Homo sapiens: one gene and its partners. The protein of the gene in region 3 purifies or fractionates together with the protein of the main gene of each other region. This does not show direct contact. Each region holds a gene or a part of one and is shown on either strand. Other genes may lie near its edges.

Region 1 (7,177 bases), on a different chromosome or scaffold from region 3:
AAGTTGCTGAGGGATTACAAACTCATGATCTAGGAAGAAGCCGGGAAGAGACTTTTTTTTTTCCCTAGATGGAGTCTTGCTTTGTCACCCAGGCCAGAGTGCAATGGCACAATCTCGGCTCACTGCAACCCCTGCCTCCCGGGTTCAAGCAATTCTTCCGCCTCAGCCTCCAGAGTAGCTGGGATTACAGGTGCATGCCACCATGCCTGGCTAATTTTTGTATTTTTTTTTTTTAGTAGAGATGGGGTTTCACCATGTTGGCCAGGCTGGTCTCGAACTCCTGACCTTGTGATCTGCCCGCCTTGTCCTCCCAAAGTGCTGGGATTACAGGCGTGAGCCGCCGTGCCCGGCTGAGAAGAGACTTTTTAACACAGTAGATAGCTTGAAATACTCAAAGGGATCTCACACCAAAGAGGGATGAAATTCATTTGGAATGGTTCCAGAGAGCTAAACAAGATCCAATGTATAGATGAAGTTAGCCAATGGGAGGTGGATCCAGCCTAGAATGAGACTGCTTTAATGATTAGAGCTGTCCAAATACAGAATGGACTGCCTTTTACAATCTCCACTGCTTTACAAGGAGCTGTAGAGCATTGGGAAGTTGGCTGGGGCCTCTTTTACAAGTCACTTATTTCCACTGTCCATTTCTGTCTAACTTGCTTTTTAAACCAGCTTGCCTTTTAGCAGCTAATGTCCTCCTTTATTAATGCCTTTGAAGTTCTTTAATCAAATCATCCATCTTTCTGAATCACAGTTTCTGTTTTCTCTCCCTGTCCTCAATTGATTGAATGTACCTGCAATCCTTGCTGAAAAATAGAGTATTTCTAAAACCTATTCTTACTTTTAAAAACCCTTCTTAACAAGAAGCAAGTACAACACGATGCATAAAATAAATTAAGCACAAGTTTATTTCTACATGAGAGAAACTAGATATTTCTGCCTTTGGGAGACTGCGTTTCTGATAAATTTTGGCAACCCATCAACAACAGCTTTCAGAGACACCAGCAGGTTGAGGAACCAAGAGCATAATTGTTATGATGATGTCTAAGGGGGCCAATTCTGGGCTTAAAATCACACTGTTTCAGCTTAAGAGAGTATTCCAGCCTCCAGTAAATAGAAAGCTTGCAGAGAACAGTCTAGGAGGGCAATGGCAACGTGGTAACAGTACCAATGTGAACTTGAACCTTCCTTCTTTCTGAGAAACCTGTAATGCTGTCTAGCTTTGTTTTTGTCTGTTTGTTTTAAACTGACTACACTTCACAGTCATTCTCATGAGGCAGGTAGTTCAGAGAGGCCCTCTAGTTTATTTCACAAATTGGAAATCAATGAACTTGAGTTCACTGAAAATTTGCTGAGGCCTTCCTATGGGGGAGGCCCTTTGCAAGTCACTTATGGGCTAGGGATGGTGGGACTAATTCATTCATTCAAACAGCAGGCATTTAATAAATGAGGAGCATAGACTAGGGACTGTTCTTTGTACTGAGGATGGACAAGATGGACAGGCCCTGTTCTTATGGAGCTTCTGTCCTAGAGCTCCATGAGACACTAGGAGACAAGCAGTTAACAGCTAAACCAAAATACAACATCACAAGTAAGCACTGTGAAGAAAACTGACCGGGCACGGTGGCTCATGCCTGTAATCCCAGCACTTTGGGAGGCCGAGGCAGGCAGATTACCTGAGGTCAGTTCGAAGCCAGCCTGGCCAACATGGTGAAACCCCATCTCTACTAAAAATACAAAAATGAGGCAGGCATGGTGGCGTGCACCTGTAGTCCCAGCTACTTGGGAGGCGGAGGCACAAGAACTGCTTGAACCCAGGAGGCCGAGGTTGTGGTGAGCTGGGATTGTGCTGCTGTCCTCCAGCCTGGGTGACAGAGAGAGACTCTGTCTCAAAGGAAAAAAAAGAAGAAAAGAAAACTGAAAAATGTGATGGAAGGTGAATTGCCGAGAGTAGCCACTTTTTAATTTATTTATTATTTAATTTTTTTTTTGAGACAAGGTCTCACTCTGTTGTTGCTCAGGCTGGAGTGCAGTGGCGTGATCACAGATCACTGCAGTCTTGACCTCCTGGGTTCAAGCGATCCTCTCTCTTTAGCCTCCTGAGTAGCTGGGACTAAAGGTTCAGGCCACCACGCCCAGCTAATTTTTTTCTTTTTTTTTTTTAGTAGAGATGGAGTCTCGCTATATTGCCCAGGCTGGTCTCAAACTCCTGGGCTCAAGGGATCCTCCTGCCTCAGCCTCCCAAAATGCTGGGATTACAGACGTGAGCCACTGTGGCTGGGTAGCCACTTTAGACAGCAAAGACATCTCTGAGGAGGGGACATGTAAGCTGCGATCTGAATGGAAAGAGAACGACACAAGTGAAGAAGATCTGTGGGAAGAGCATTCCATACAAAGGCTGAGGTCAGGAACTCCTCCAGAAGCTCATAATTGCACCAGAGGTGCTTACAACCCCAAGCAGTGACAGTGGCACAGAATATTCAACATCAAATGCCTAAGCTAATTTCCAGGCTGAGAAAGGTAAACCATCCTTCTCCTGCCTGCAGTGCTTCTATCGGTCCTGAAAGAGACAGAGGAGGTAAGGGAGAAGAATTGGTACGAAATGGTGCAGAGCTGGTCTCAGAGGGCAACAACAGCCAGCCCTCCATGACCACACTCCCACCGTGCACTCACGTGCCCCTCTTGAAGCGGCTCTGATCCTGTGACCTAACCAGTTTCCACCTGGCTTCTCTCAGTGCGTTGCCATATAGTATAATTTTTTGTTTGTTTGTTTCGTGTAGGGTTTTGTTGGTTCTTTTCCAAGTATCAATCAAAACTACATGCCAACGTCCACTCCTTGGAAATAATTAAATGACATGACGTGCCTGATTTTTTCAGCTGGTGATGCACTGTAATTTGCATCTGCTGAAGGAATTTATCTTAAGTCCTGAAGCCCAGCCACTTGAGACAACTGAGGTGATTTTTCTGCTCTGCTTTTGCTCATGCGGATGGTGCGTTATTGTTAAACACAAAAGTGGACTAATTGCTTCATTCTGCAACCTACTCCGTGAAGAAAGCTGCTCTTCTTTGTGAAGAGAATATGTTCATGTTTTGTTCATGAATTCCATGCAATTTCCCATCCCCTTGTTAAGTAATGTAGCTTCTTTATATTGGCAAAATTCCCTTTATCTTGCTGTGACCTGCGCTTTGTCCTCCCGAGCAGAGCAAATCATCTGTGGTTTAAGAGCAGCTTTGGATTCAAGTCCCCTTTTCTCCTGTCGAGGGAAGTGAGTCTATGAAATGGCCTTCATCTGAAAGCCACAGCGAAGCACCTCCTAGCCCAAGTCTAGCTGCTGTGTGGCAGCTCCAGCGGCGTGAACTGTGACTGCCCTGCAGACACCTATCAAGCGCTGCGTCAGCTATTAATAATAAAATCAACTCTTCTCCCTCCCCCCCGCGAGGGGGGTTCCCTCGTCAGGGCCCAGAACCCGCTGGGGAAGAATCGGGGCTGGCGTGCGAAGGAGCTGGCGGCAGGGGGTGTAGGATGCGGTGTTCCCGAGGCGACAGATGAAGGATTTGGGTTGTGTGGGAAGTGAACTGCGGAATTCCTCCCCTTGGTTTCTGAGGGGGGCTCTGAAGGAGCCAGATTAGGATGCAGAGCGCAGCCCGGGCGACCGAGGGCGAGGAGGCGAGCCAAGGACATCAGCCCGAGGGCGCCTCGAGACGCCCCGCGTGGACCGCGCTCCCAGCTCCTCGGCCTCGCCTTCCAACCATCCGCCCACCGGCCCCAGAGCAGCGTGCCCACTGTGAGCGCCCCACCCTGCGTCTGCAGGTGGGTGGGTCAGAGAACCGCAGGCACAGAAGAGGGTACCCAGCTTCCCCTCCGCCAGCCCCGCGACCGCGGCGCGCGCGGCCTCGATCCGGGTTCCTAGGGGCGGCGCGCGGGAGGGGGCGGGGCCTGCGCGGCAGCGTGGGCGCCAGGCGCGCGGGAGGAGGGAGCCGGGAGGAGGGGGCGGGGCCGCGCCGCCCGCGCCGCGCTGGGCGCTCTCGGCCAATGAGCGGCGTCCACATGCCGCGGCGGCGGCGAAAGGGGAGGCAGCGGCCGATAAATGCTATTAGAGCAGCCGCCGCGGAGCCGTCCCCGACGCCACCTCCTTTTCCTTCGCCGCAGTTTCCTCCGCCGCTGTCGGGCGTGCGGCGCTGAGGGACCCGGGCGAGCGCGCCGCGCACCGCCCCGCCGGCTCGCCTCCCTCGCCGCGTTCCGCCCTCAGTGGTCTGCCGGGCGCCCCCTCCTCCGGCCCGGGCGGGGCCTCTGATCGCCTCAAGAGAGCGGGGAGGGGGCTCGGGGGCCGCGGCCTGCCCTCCCGGCGGGCGGCTGAGGGCGAGGGAGGCCCTCCCTTCTGGCGAGGGGAGGGAGGGTGGGTCAGGAGCCCCCAACCCGCCCTGCGGAGCTCGGGGCCGCGCGAGGGGCGGTTGTCTGGGGGAGGGGGCGCGGGGTGATTCAGCGCCCGGCGAGGCGGAAGCGGCCGCAAGAGGAGGAGGGGAGAGCCCGTCCGCGCCTGGGCTCCCGGGGTGGCACGAGCCCGCGGCCGGAGTGCGAGGCGGAGGCGAGGAGGCCGCGGGGACGGGAGGCGAGGCCGGCCGGGCCCCCGAAGCCATGGAGAACGCGCACACCAAGACGGTGGAGGAGGTGCTGGGCCACTTCGGCGTCAACGAGAGTACGGGGCTGAGCCTGGAACAGGTCAAGAAGCTTAAGGAGAGATGGGGCTCCAACGGTAGGTGCAGGGCGCTCCGCTGCAGGGGCCCGGCGCGGCCGGGAGAGCCAGGGAAGATGGCTGACCGGGCTCCACCTCGTGGGCTTCGGCTCCGCGCCCGCCGACAGCTGCGGGCGGAGGGTCGGGCCAGCGCGCCGGCCCCGCGGGAGAGAAAGGGGCTGCGGTCCTCGCCTCGCCTTCCCTGGACCTCTTCGCTTCTCGGGCCCTCGACCTTTTCGGCGCGCAAGGCTCGGAGGCTTCTCTCCAGCAGCAGCCGGCCCCGGTGGAGGGAGGGACGTGGCTTCTGCAGCTAGGTTGAGCCCGGCAAGACGTTTTCTCGTCCCCTGCCGATTTATGAGGAGTCGAGGTCGTTGGAAGGCCTCTGACCGTTCTTGTCCTACCCAAAGTTACACATCTGGCAGAAGTGATGACATCGCTGAAACCACTCCTAGGTTCAGGAGCCCGAAGTGATTTCACGCTTAGGGCTAGACCTCAGGCCATTGATTACAAAGAGTGCATGCTTCCTTGAGATATCTTCGTGGTATGCCCTCTGCTAAAAAAATCGGATATTCTTATAGCTAGGTCTGTGTTTTAAAGATATTGATGCTTAGAATTGTAGCAGTTCTTTTTAGAAAAACGAAGTGCTAAAATGTCTCTCTCTTTTTTTTTTTAACCTCCCTCTTGACACATTGCTTGACGAATTTCTACATTCTACAGAGTTACCGGCTGAAGAAGGTAATCTTAACATGCTGTTTCTGTTTTTTTTCCTCTGTTGGTGTGCTGATGGTAAGATGACAGTTAAAACACATGTGTTTGTTTCTTACAGGAAAAACCTTGCTGGAACTTGTGATTGAGCAGTTTGAAGACTTGCTAGTTAGGATTTTATTACTGGCAGCATGTATATCTTTTGTAAGTATAAAAAAATTTATTTTCTTTCCCCCCAAAAGCTGAAAGTATTCCATAGATAAATCAGAAAACAAATGATGTCCATTGGGTGAAAACATATTTGGAGTTGCAAGCTGTGTCTCTATGTTTAAAAACAATCTGGGCATTTTAAAATTACAAAACAAAACACTTGAAGCCATTGGTATTCAGAAAATAGATGCCTGACATTTACAGTGTGGTTAGGAGTTGTCCCAGAGTGTGGCATGGTCTTAGAAATTCTTGTGGTTTATCAGCTTTTAATATCAAAAAGTTCTTTTCTGGGAAGCCTTTAATGTTTTGGGTTCTTCCATTGTTATCGTGTTGTAAGATCATACTAAGATGATGTTGGACTCTTTGTAGTCTGTAAATAGAACTTACAAAAGGAATATTCCAGTTGCTTTCCCTTCCTGGTAATGGCAAGGTGACAGTTGTTCCTGACGGTGACAAGAATGATGACGGCTGTGATGGCACCCTTGTTGACCAAATTTGGTCACTGACCTTTAGGGTGGTATATTTATCTAAATTGGACCCCTGTCTTAAGTGATTCTTAGGTTGAAAGAACAAGGTTTAGTACAGTTGGTTCTAGATCTTAAAGGAAAAAAACCAGCATGGTGTTTTTTCTTGTTCTGTGTGTGCTTACCCACTTGAGTGCTATATGGTTGCTAAGAAACTAGTGAAATGCAAAGAACTACAGCAGAAAAAGGGTGTTGGGGTGGCAAGTATATTTCTAGGTTTTTAACTTTTTTTTAAATGTTCGGTATTAATTTTTTGTTGCATTTTTTTTCTTGGGCAGTAGATTGCTTGCTAGTTTTCCTAAAAATGGTCAGGAATAGGACACAGATGTTCCTAATTCTAATAGCATGAGATGCCTTTTATTCTTGAATTACGTTATTCTTACAAAAACCACGATAAGTGAAATTCACCCAGTGCAGTACTTCTTTCTAGTTAAAACAAAATTGACAAAACTTCACGGTTTCAGTTCTTGTACATATATGTATGCAGGTCCCAGGGATCAGCCTCAGTCTTTGTGAGAACCATACCATAGAGGGCTATTTTGAGAACGAAATAAACAAAGCAGTGGGCATTTATTTAGTTCAGATGAGGAAAAGATTAAATTTATACCCATCTTTTAAGTAGATAGTGGCAGCAGTAAATAAATTTGTGGAATAATTTTTACATAAATCCTGCTATGATACTTTATTATGCCATATTAGCCAAGTATTGTGTAGCCATTAATAATTCAGTCCCCAAGAACCTTTTCTGTGGTTTTCATTGATTAAAATGGGGACTTACATAGCAAACCATTCAGCATTCTGAGTCAGTCACAATGTACCTCTGATAAAATGTTTCTTCTTGATTGATTAAAAAATTTTCCCCCAGAAAATGGCTGCTGTTTTACCAATTAAGGGAAATGAGTAGACCCGATTAACTATAGTTTATCAATACATTGTCATGGGGCAAAATAAATGATACATTTGGAGCTAGTGTAAGATTTGTATTTAACTGGGTACATAATAGCG
Region 2 (2,960 bases), on a different chromosome or scaffold from region 3:
CCACCACACCTAGCTAATTTTTCTATTTTTAGTAGAGACGGGGTTTTGCCATGTCGGCCAGGCTGGTCTCAAACTCCTGACCTCAGGTGATCCACGCACCTCAGCCTCCCAAAGTGCTAGGATTACAGGCGTGAGCCACCACCCCCGGCCTCCCCTTCCACTTTTTTTGTTTGTTTGTTTGAGACAGAGTCTCGCTCTGTCGCCAGGCTGGAGTGCAGTGGTGCTCTTGGCTCACTGCACCCTTTGCCTCCTGGGTTCAAGTGATTCTCCTGCCTCAGCCTCCCGAGTAGCTGGGGTTACAGGCATGTGCCACCATGCCCAGCTGATTTTTGTATTTTTAGTAGAGACGAGGTTTCACCATGTTGGCCAGGATGGTCTTGATCTCTTGACCTTGTGATCAGCCCGCCTTGGCCTCCCAAAGTGCTGGGATTACAGGCGTGAGCCACCACGCCCGGCCTCTCCCCTTCCACTTTTAAGGGCTCATGCAATTGGATGGATCACCTGGAAAATCCAGGAAAACTGCCCCATCTCAGGGTCTGCACCCTTAATCCTTTTTTTTTTTGTATTCTTGTACCCTTGATCCTATCTGCAAAGCCCCTTTGGCTGCTTAAGGTAGCATATTCTGGAGATTAGGAACTAGACATCTTTGGGGGCCACTATTCTGCCCACCATAGCTAGAGAACCAAAAACGGCTAATCAGTCAAGAAGGTAAGATTTTTATGGCTCTTAATACTTATTGCCAAATTCCTTTTCTGGCATGTCAGACAGATACATAGTAGTATGGCTTTACCACACCCTCAACAGCATTGGGTTTTGTGATTTTCCTTCTCTGCAGTGGTTGCTAGTTGAAAAATTTGTCTCTGATGTTTTGATTTTGCGTTTCTTGAATTACTAGTAGGTTGAACATTTTTCCATGTCTTTGTTTACTGTTTGGACAATTTTGAAGACAAGAGAATATTGATGTTGACTACTCCGCAAGGAATTACTTCCACTTTCTGTCTCCTCCCCCTGTCCTACTGCCTGTGTTGAGTGCTGCAGAAGGAGGTTGAAGACATTTCAGTGGAGTCCATGTCTCTCAGGCAGCTTCGTTTCCTGGAGGGGAGAGAAGCAGTGCCCTCAGACATGGGGAATGACCACATGCTGATGGGGGCACAGCCACACACTCGGGGGCAGAGACTGGCTTAGGGCCGGGTGGCCTAGAGGAAGGGCTGGGCTGGAGCAAAGCCAGAGAGAATAGGATCATTCTAGGGGAGGGCCCAAAAGACAGCCTCCTGCAGACTCGGCCATCCCTGGGTGAGAAAGCAGCAGCCTGGCCCATGGACAGGATGTTTCAACACTGGCCCTGTGCCATCCTTCCAGGGGGCCTGACCTGTCAGAATGGTGGGTAACTGTTGCCACCTTGGTCAGTGGGCTTGTGGGGGAGCTGGCAGCCTCGTCCCAGTGGGTGCTGGGCTTTATTCTAGCCTTGGCTTTGCAGGTGGCCTGCTACAGCTGCACGTCTGGACAGTGGTCATCTGTCTGCCCACTCCCTGCTGGGCACGGTGAGCCTGGCATTGCTGTGCTGGACAACAGGATCTATGTGTTAGGTGGCCGCTCACACAACCGCGGCAGCCGCACAGGCTACGTGCACATTTACGATGTGGAGAAGGACTGCTGGGAGGAAGGGCCCCAGCTGGACAACTCCATCTCAGGCCTGGCGGCCTGTGTGCTCACCCTGCCCCGCTCCCTGCTCCTTGAGCCGCCCCGCGGGACCCCTGACCGCAGCCAGGCCGACCCGGACTTTGCCTCTGAGGTGATGAGTGTGTCTGACTGGGAGGAGTTTGACAACTCCAGTGAGGACTAGGCTCCCTGTGCCTGGCATCAGAGGGAAGGGAGGCTGGGGCTGCAGGGCAGTGAAACCCACGCAGCCTAGGCCAGAGCACTTTACTCCAGGCAGGGCCCCTGCCCCTGTTGGCCACAGCTTATGGGCCCTGCCCTCTTTCTTCACACCAGCCCCTTGGCCAGCCTGCCGCAGGCATCTCAGGGCCATGCAGATCCCAGGCTGTGGATTACGTCACTGCAGGAACTGCTTCTGAAAGGCTTTGGCCTTCCTCAGTGAGCCCTGGAGGGGTTGGCCTTCTCTCCTCCCTGCCTAGATCAGTCCTTCTCCAAAAGGACCTGGGAGCTGGCAGCCTGGGCAGGGGGGCTGAGGCACGTGGTAGCCCTCTTTCTGTGAATGGGGTGGGGCTGTGGGGGCAGCTGGGGTTGGAGGATGAGAGCTCCTGAGGGGCAGAGGAGCAGAGATGCATCAGCTCGCCTGGGACTGGCTCTGTGATAAAAAGACCCCTCCCGCTGGGTTTTCAGACCCCATGTTGTTGGTCAATGAAATAAAGCATCTTACAGAAGGTGTTAACTGTTTTTCTGTAGCCACAGCCTCAGTTCCTTTCCACAGTGCACCCAAGCTGCGTCCCCAGGAAGCGTGGCTTCTGGGGTCAGAGCTGCCATCTGGGAGAGGCTGTGGAAGCCCAGGCCAGAAGCCAAGTGGCACTGGGAAGACCCTGCCTGAGAGGGAAGCACAGTAAACTCCACAAGCTAACAGGGCACTCAGTGGGAAAGCTGGAACTCGCCCTGGTCTGGTGACAGGTGGTTGTGCAGCCACTTGAGTGTCTTCTCTGGTGTGGAACTTGTCTCCCAACCAGGGCAGCACGCAGAGTTTCAGCCCAGCTCGTTAGGAGTCTCTCAGCCTGAGGGTCAGGGAACCAGAGCTTCAGCACCTGGGAGCGGGGCAGCATCAGGGGGTCGGTGGGGGGGGCCCCTCTGGCCTGTGCCCGGCTCCTCCCAACCTCCTGAAGCTGAGTGTGCTGGGGAGGGGAGCTGCATGTGCTACAGGTTTGCCAGGTAACCCTTAGGCACCCAGTCTCAAGGACCACACTGGCACAGCAGCTGGGACCCTCCCCTGTTCACCTGTCCCCATGCTTTTC
Region 3 (7,000 bases):
GCTGGGATTACAGGTGTGAGCCACTGTGCCTGGCCTAAAAGACTTGTTTTGAAAGAGACTGAGATTCCCTTCTGGCTCTGTTTCTATCTGGTTGTGCAAACTTAGAACCTCTCTAAGCTTTGTTTCCTTAACTATGAAGGATAATGATTTAAATAATTTTAAGCATTTCTAAAGCCCCAGTTCTTTATAGTATAAGAGAAGGTAGGTGAAGGTCATCTTCCCTCTGACTCTCTGCAGCACTGTACCAATCCAGTACCTGTAGACAAAGGGTCTTCTCGCTGGGACTGAGGAAGATAGTCATTCCTTATGTTCAAAGTCCTGCCCTTCCTGACCATTTTTTCCTGAGTCCTACCCTTTCTTCTGGGGTGTAGGGTATGAGGATTAAGATTCTGTCATGTCTTGTCCCAGCATGTGGCAGTGAGATCTGTGGTTTTTACGACTTGATATTTAAGGGAGAGTCATTCATCTTTTCCCAATTTTTGTTCCTCTTTCAGATTGATTCATGGTGCAAAGATCATAGCTACGTGATTGCTGGTTATTATCAAGCTAATGAGCGAGTAAAGGATGCCAGGTACGTGGATGCAGAACCCTCTGTGGGCGAGGAAGTGAGCACGTGTTGGGCAGACCCCGTCTCTCGTGTGCTTTTCGGCCAGATACGAAACCTGTGAGACCTACACCCCTTCCCTCTGTGCTTATTTGTAGTATTTGAGGCGAACTGTGGTGTGGATAATTCCAAACAACAGAAATTCCAAACATTTCTATTAACTTTGGAATTCTGTTTTGTGTCTTCTTTATTTTGCATGAAGGGAATTCATACAATGAAAGCGACAGTTGGCTTCCGACTTCTGTCCCTGCTCAGCTCTGCCTTGCTTCCCCTTCCCAGACTAGGGGTGGTGTTGGGCAGAGCACTGGGAAGGAATGTTGCTCTATTTGCCGGTAAATAGACCAGCCTGTAGGTTTGGGGTCAGTACTCTGATGAAAATGTGGTATTTGCTGCCCCCTTTATACTGGCTCCTTCTTTCTTTTCCTTTATCCAGATCCTTCCCCAACTGGGGCTCTCGCTAATAACAAAGCTGAGAATTTTTCTATATGTCTGCGTCATCTTGGTCCCAACAGAAAAACAGATGACACACTCAGGTGGTGATAATCTGAGGAGGGCTTAATAAGCAGGCTGTTGACAAGGCCTGGGCCGTAGATAACGCACAGGGGGTCGTGCTGTAAACAAGGCTGGCGACAACAGCCCAAAGGGTGGGGAGGAAGGAGCTGGGTAAACAAGTCCACCTTGAGAAAAGCAGTGCCCTTGGGCAGGTGGCCACAGCCAGCCTGACGTGGCCTCCCATTAGGGGAGAGGTGGCCCAGAGCAGTCAGTACATGATGTCCCCCTTCCATTTTCCTTTGGCTGAACCGAGCCAGAAGCCAGATGGGCAGCTGGAAAGTCCACGCCGTATATAACGGGCATGCGTCAGGCTGCCCTGACGTGGCTTCCTCATGTTGTCAGATAGAGCCGACCCTCCAGTGTCCAGGGAGATGGGGGTGCAGTGAAGGGCCCTGCCGTTGGGTCCACTTGCTCAGCACAGATGAGAAGGTGAGCTCAAGCACTTTGGAAATAATACAGTAAGCTGGTGACAGCATTGCTATCACTGATGAGGCACCAGTGTTTCTGATGAGAAACATGGTATCCTAAAAGAAACCCAAATTTAGAAACATAATTATCTTACCCTAGGAGGGCTGGGTCCAGGCACAGGATCCTGAGGGAGGCAGATGTCCTAGGAGATGCTGCACTCAAAGTCAGTCCGCTGAAGCCTCTGCCAAGGCGGTTGGGAGTGCGTGGAATCCCCATGCACATTGGCTCTTCTGCTGCTTCCTCTGAGCCCACGAGCAGCACTGGCCTCTCCGCCTTCAGCGCATCTCTTCTGACTCTCACTGGGATGTCCTCTGTTTGATATCGCCTGCCTCCCTTTGTTGATGAATCAGTGCCTCCCCTCTCAGTGCCTTCACTGAGCGAGAGCCTACCCACGGGGCCACATCCATCTTAGTCTTTGTTACATGAAAGACTAGGCGTGGGCTGAGGAAAGCGCAGCCCTCTGGCCCTTGCCCTCACGTGGCTGAGTTGAACATGAAGGACAGTGCAAACACAGGCTGTGGTGCAGGACAGCGGCCCCTGCAGGGGGCTTGGTGGCAGGGGCCGGGAGACTTAGACCTGGTAGGATGATCCCAGAAGTCCAGGGCATGGTGTCCTGTAAACCAGGCCCTCGAGAGTGAGCAGGGCCTTGTCAAGTGCAGACGTGGAGACCAGGAGGTCAGCATTCCTGGTTGGGGGGACAGCAGACACAGGTGAGGACGTGGCAAGGGCTGGGGCCGTGCCCACATGGAGGGAGATGCTAGGAAGTGAGGCTGCACAGGTAGGTTGGGCCACAGCTGAGGGCTCCTCTGTGCTCAGAAGCATTTTGAACTTCACCTTGCAAGCAGTGGGGAGCACCCTTGGCAGGAAGGTGTTCCTGGACCAAGCAGTGTCTGCCGTGGCTGTCCCTGCAGAAGGGAGAGGAGACTGGGCAAGTGGGAATGGCACCAGGTTGTCAGATGAGGGCAGGGGCCTCCCTTTCCTTAATCCCCCACCTGCAAATCCATGCCTGATGTGGTCGCCCCACATGGACCTGCGCAGGCTCTCCTATGCTCCTCTCTGCGCATGCCTCATCTGGCTCACAGCTCTCATGTTCTTACCTCTGTGCTGACCTCGTTACAGCCCAGCCTGGAATTATCCTACTCGGACACAGTTTTCCTGCTCTCCATACCTTCCTTCTAGAATGTCCTCCCTATCCTCACCTAGTCCACGTCCTTCTGCGTCCTCCAGGAGGTTTTGCAGTCCTTCATTAATACTGACTTTTAAATGCATCCGGAGCAGCCATTTGTCAGATGTGTAGAGAGGATAAACCTTAGCTAGGAGTCTGCCACCCTGGAATAGGGAATCCACCTCCCCCTCCCCCGCTGTGCCCAGTTGTTTGAGGAGGACACCTCAGGTAGGTAATGCCGTGCTATCCCTGGGCTCTATCGGGGTCATTTTATTTCATCCTCACAGCAATGCACAAGTGAAGAAACCAGCCGGAGAAGGTGGCTTCTCAGAGGCCACACAGCTTGGGAGCTCAGGAGCTAGGATCATGCCAACTTCTGACTTAAGTATGGTTTTGCTTCTGCCTGGAAAACCTTCCCCTCTCTTCAGCCAGACCTAGCTGAAAATTTGCTCTTCTTATTCTAGAAATATTGCCTCATTCACAGTGTCTTGCAGCATGATTTGGAGCCAAGTAGACCTGGATTCAAATTCTAGGTGACTTACTGATTAACCTCCTTGGGCCTCTGTGGCCCTGTCTGTAAAATGGAGCTGAGCTCATGCCTCAGAGAGTAGTCATGAGGACAGAATGAAATTGCGCAGTGTGTTTGTCCTTGTGCTTGGTTTACAGTAGTGGCTGGTGCTGTTACTAGTGCTGTGATGACTTTTTCTATTACTGTTCTAACGTAGTGTTTATAACTTTTATGAATTTCCTAAACTTTAGGTCATTCCATCAAGTTTTATTATATGATTCATTGTTGGCCAGTGTTTTGCTTCATAGTTAGCATTTGATATGAGTAGGTTTCGGTGCCCGGCAGAGAGCCCTGGCCTGAGGCAGACACTCAGGAGGAAGCTTTTAGATACACATTGTAAGATGGCACCTACACGCTGGCCCGACATGGTGCTGTTGAGGGTGAGCAGAGTGGTCTGCCTTCAGGGTGCCTGCAGTTTCAGTTGGCAGCTGGCTCTTCCTAGGAACAAGGAGTTCCTGACTAGCAGGAACCACAGCGTGGCAGTCTTCATTCAGGATCAAGTGGATCAGTATTGGAGATTCAGTGCCTAAGACAGAGAAATGCAAAGTTGGCAGCTGTTTCAAATACTTTGACAGTTCATTAACTACACATTTTTTTTTTGGCGGGGCGGTGGCAGAGCAGACAGAGTCTCACTCTGTCACCCAGGCTGGAGTGCAGTGGCACGATCTCGCCTCAATGCAACCTCCACCTCCTGGGTTCAAAGTATTCTGCTGTCTCAGGCTCCTGAGTAGCTGGAATTACAGGCACCTGCCACCACACCTGGCTAATTTTTGTATTTTTAGTAGAGACGGGGTTTCACCGTGTTGGCCAGGCTGGTCTCGAACTGCTGACCTCAAGTGATCCACCCACCTTAACCTCCCAAAGTGCTGGGATTACAGGCATGAGCCACCACACCCGGCCAACTACAAATTTTTAGACTTCTTTTAAAATAATAAATTTTAGGCCAGCCATGTTGGATCACACCTGTAATCCCAGCACTTTCAGAGGCCAAGGCAGGAGGATTTCTTGAGCCAGGTGTTCAAGACCAGTCTGGGCAACATAGCAAGACCTCATCTCTACAAAAAAATACAAAAATTAGCTGGACATGGTGGCCTACGCCTGTGGTCCCAGCTACAAGGGAGGCTGGGGTGGGAGATCACTTGAGCCTGGGCAGTTGGGGCTGCAGTGAGCCATGATCTCGCCACTGTACTCCAGCCTGGGCAACAGAGCAAGACCCCATCTCAAAAATCAGTGAATAGAAAGACAGATGTTAAGAGTTCTTGAGCATCTGCAATGGTAGTTTTTCTTTTTAATGAGTGTTTCCTTACCCTCTCCCCAATAAAAATCAACAACCAGCATGATCAGTGTTAAGTAGGAGGGTAAGGGCTTTGCAAGCTCTTCATGGCAAGCGGCCCTGCCTTTTGCTTTCCAAGTTCCTCAGCAAATGCAGGAGCAGGCAGAGGTGGGTACATGGGCAGGCCTCCTGAGGGCTCTGTACCCACTCTTCACCACTTGCCGTTAGTGCTGTGGGGACCTGGCGCCCACCGAGTCCTGGTCAGTGCAGTGAAGCACTGCCTTCCCTCTGCGCTAGGAGCCACCATCGCACTGCTTTCTTCAGTACGATTGGCTTCTACCTGAAAACCTCCCCTTCCCTCTTAAGTCATATTTTTCTTAACACAGTCACATTTTTAAGTCATATTTTTCTTAATACTGCAGATTTATAATCAGTACATCACTTTGTCAATTTTGAAAACGAAAATACAATAATCATATAAAATAATTTGTTTTTTAAAAACATTATTAATTTTTTTTAGCCTAATCACAAGGGAAGGATTGTAATTGTATATAGTGTGCTTTGTTAAATAACTCACAATAATGCATGTATTTTTATGGCTGTTAAAAGAAAGATGGGGCCAGGCGCGGTGGCTCACGCCTATATTCCCAGCACTTTGGGAGGCCATCGCGGGCAGATCACGAGGTCAGGAGATCGAGACCATCCTGGCTAACACGGTGAAACCCCATCTCTACTAAAAATACAAAAAATTAGCTGGGCGTGGTGGCGGGCGCCTGTAGTCCCAGCTACTTGGGAGGCTGAGGCAGGAGAATGGCGTGAACCCGGGAGGCAGAGCTTGCAGTGAGCCGAGATCGCGCCACTGCACTCCAGCCTAGGCGACAGAGTGAGACTCCATCTCAAAAAAAGAAAAAAAAAGAAAGATGGATGGCTTGGTCCCTGCCACAAAAAGCTGAAAGCCTTGATTGTGCAGGGCAGACAGGATGCACAGAAGGAAAGCAGCACGTGCCATGGACTCTGTGTTAGAGCCTCTTAGAAATAAATCCTCAGAACTCCAGCAGGGCAGGGGGTCTCATCCAGGGTTTAGCAGGGCTTTGTGGTGAGGGTGGCATGTCTTCTGGGCACTGAAAGAGGGGAAGCAATTCAGTAAGGAGGCCTTGGTGTGGAGGGCCAGACGGGACAGTGTGAGTGAAACAAGACGGGCATGTGAGGCAGATGACATGTAGGCAGATTTCCTGACATTGAAGACACAGCATTGCCCCTGTGGCTGCACACGGTAGCTCAGTTCACCGTAACGAAGGCCTGCCTCTGCCAGCCTGAGAATAGCAGCCTTCATCTTGCAGGCAGTGGTGAGCAGTAGTCTGTGGGGCTGTGAGCACCAGGGGACGTGATGGAAGTTCTGTTTTAGGAAAATTTAGTTCAGGAGAATTTTCAGGTTACATCGGATAAGAAGAGCCTAAGCTGAGCTTCGTAGCACGTGCCTGTGGTCCCAGCTGCTTGTGAGGCTGAGCAGGAAGGATTGATTGAGACCCGGAGTTTGTGGCCATGATCACACCTGTGAATAGCCACCATGCTCCAGCCTGGGCAACGAAGCGAGACTCTGTCTCTTTTTTTTTTGACGTGGAGTCTCACTGTTGCCCAGGCTGGAGTACAGTGGCATGATCTCAGCTCACTGCCACCCCCGCCTCCCGGGTTCAAGCGATTCTCCTGCCTCAGCCTCCGGAGTAGCTGGGTCTACAGATGTGCATCACCACACCCAGCTAGTTTTTATATTTTTAGTAGAGACAGGGTTTCACCATGTTGGCCAGGCTGGTCTCGAACTCCTGACCTCATCAGGTGATCCACCTGCCTCGGCCTCCGAAAGTGCAGGGATTACAGGCGTGAGCCACTGCACCCAGCCGACCCTGTCTCTTTAAAAAAGAGAGCGAGCGAGTGACCGTAGAAATTATGAGACCGGTTAGGAAGCAGTTTTAGAAGCCCCTGCCTAAGGTGAGAGACTGAAGGAAATAAATGACAGGGAGAATGCAGGAAAGGAGGGCAGAGAAAGGACCTGTGGCCTGCAGGGTGGGGAAGAGCAGAGGGAAAGGTGGCCTCAGGTCGGAGAGGCTGGAAATGGACTGGCCTGCCTGAGAGTGGTGGGTTCCCGCTGGGAGGCTTTTGAGGGGGTAGCAGTCTTGGGGCCATCAGGCAGTGGTCAGGAGACTTCCGGAGTGCTGCTCTGCAAGGGAATGGGTTAGATGGCAGATTGCACAGAGCTGTGGTGAGGACATGGAGCAAGACTAGCGGCTTGTTAAAGAAGTTGAAGAAACAGTCATGGAAGGGAGGAGGGAAGCTGGACAGCAGCTAGAGGGAACCGGTTCAATGCTTTTGTTT

What was found.
Region 1: the proteins of EMC8 (region 3) and ATP2A2 purify together in Homo sapiens (affinity purification with mass spectrometry; 2 studies listed by BioGRID and IntAct, with this or other methods). This does not show direct contact.
Region 2: the proteins of EMC8 (region 3) and KLHL22 purify together in Homo sapiens (co-immunoprecipitation; 2 studies listed by IntAct). This does not show direct contact.

Annotation. Positions count from the first base shown.
Region 1 is NC_000012.12:110,277,154-110,284,330, forward strand, and holds the start of ATP2A2 (sarcoplasmic/endoplasmic reticulum calcium ATPase 2), read left to right. Parts: upstream 1-4,093; 5' UTR 4,094-4,636; coding exon 4,637-4,754; intron 4,755-5,450; coding exon 5,451-5,468; intron 5,469-5,559; coding exon 5,560-5,642; intron 5,643-7,177.
Region 2 is NC_000022.11:20,440,956-20,443,915, reverse strand, and holds the end of KLHL22 (kelch-like protein 22), read left to right. Parts: intron 1-712; exon of another isoform or gene 713-1,092; intron 1,093-1,477; coding exon 1,478-1,843; 3' UTR 1,844-2,397; downstream 2,398-2,960. UniProt on the Homo sapiens protein: Substrate-specific adapter of a BCR (BTB-CUL3-RBX1) E3 ubiquitin ligase complex required for chromosome alignment and localization of PLK1 at kinetochores.
Region 3 is NC_000016.10:85,782,545-85,789,544, reverse strand, and holds part of EMC8 (ER membrane protein complex subunit 8), read left to right. Parts: intron 1-494; coding exon 495-571; intron 572-3,076; coding exon of another isoform or gene 3,077-3,174; exon of another isoform or gene 3,175-3,253; coding exon of another isoform or gene 3,254-3,288; exon of another isoform or gene 3,289-3,322; intron 3,323-7,000. UniProt on the Homo sapiens protein: Part of the endoplasmic reticulum membrane protein complex (EMC) that enables the energy-independent insertion into endoplasmic reticulum membranes of newly synthesized membrane proteins.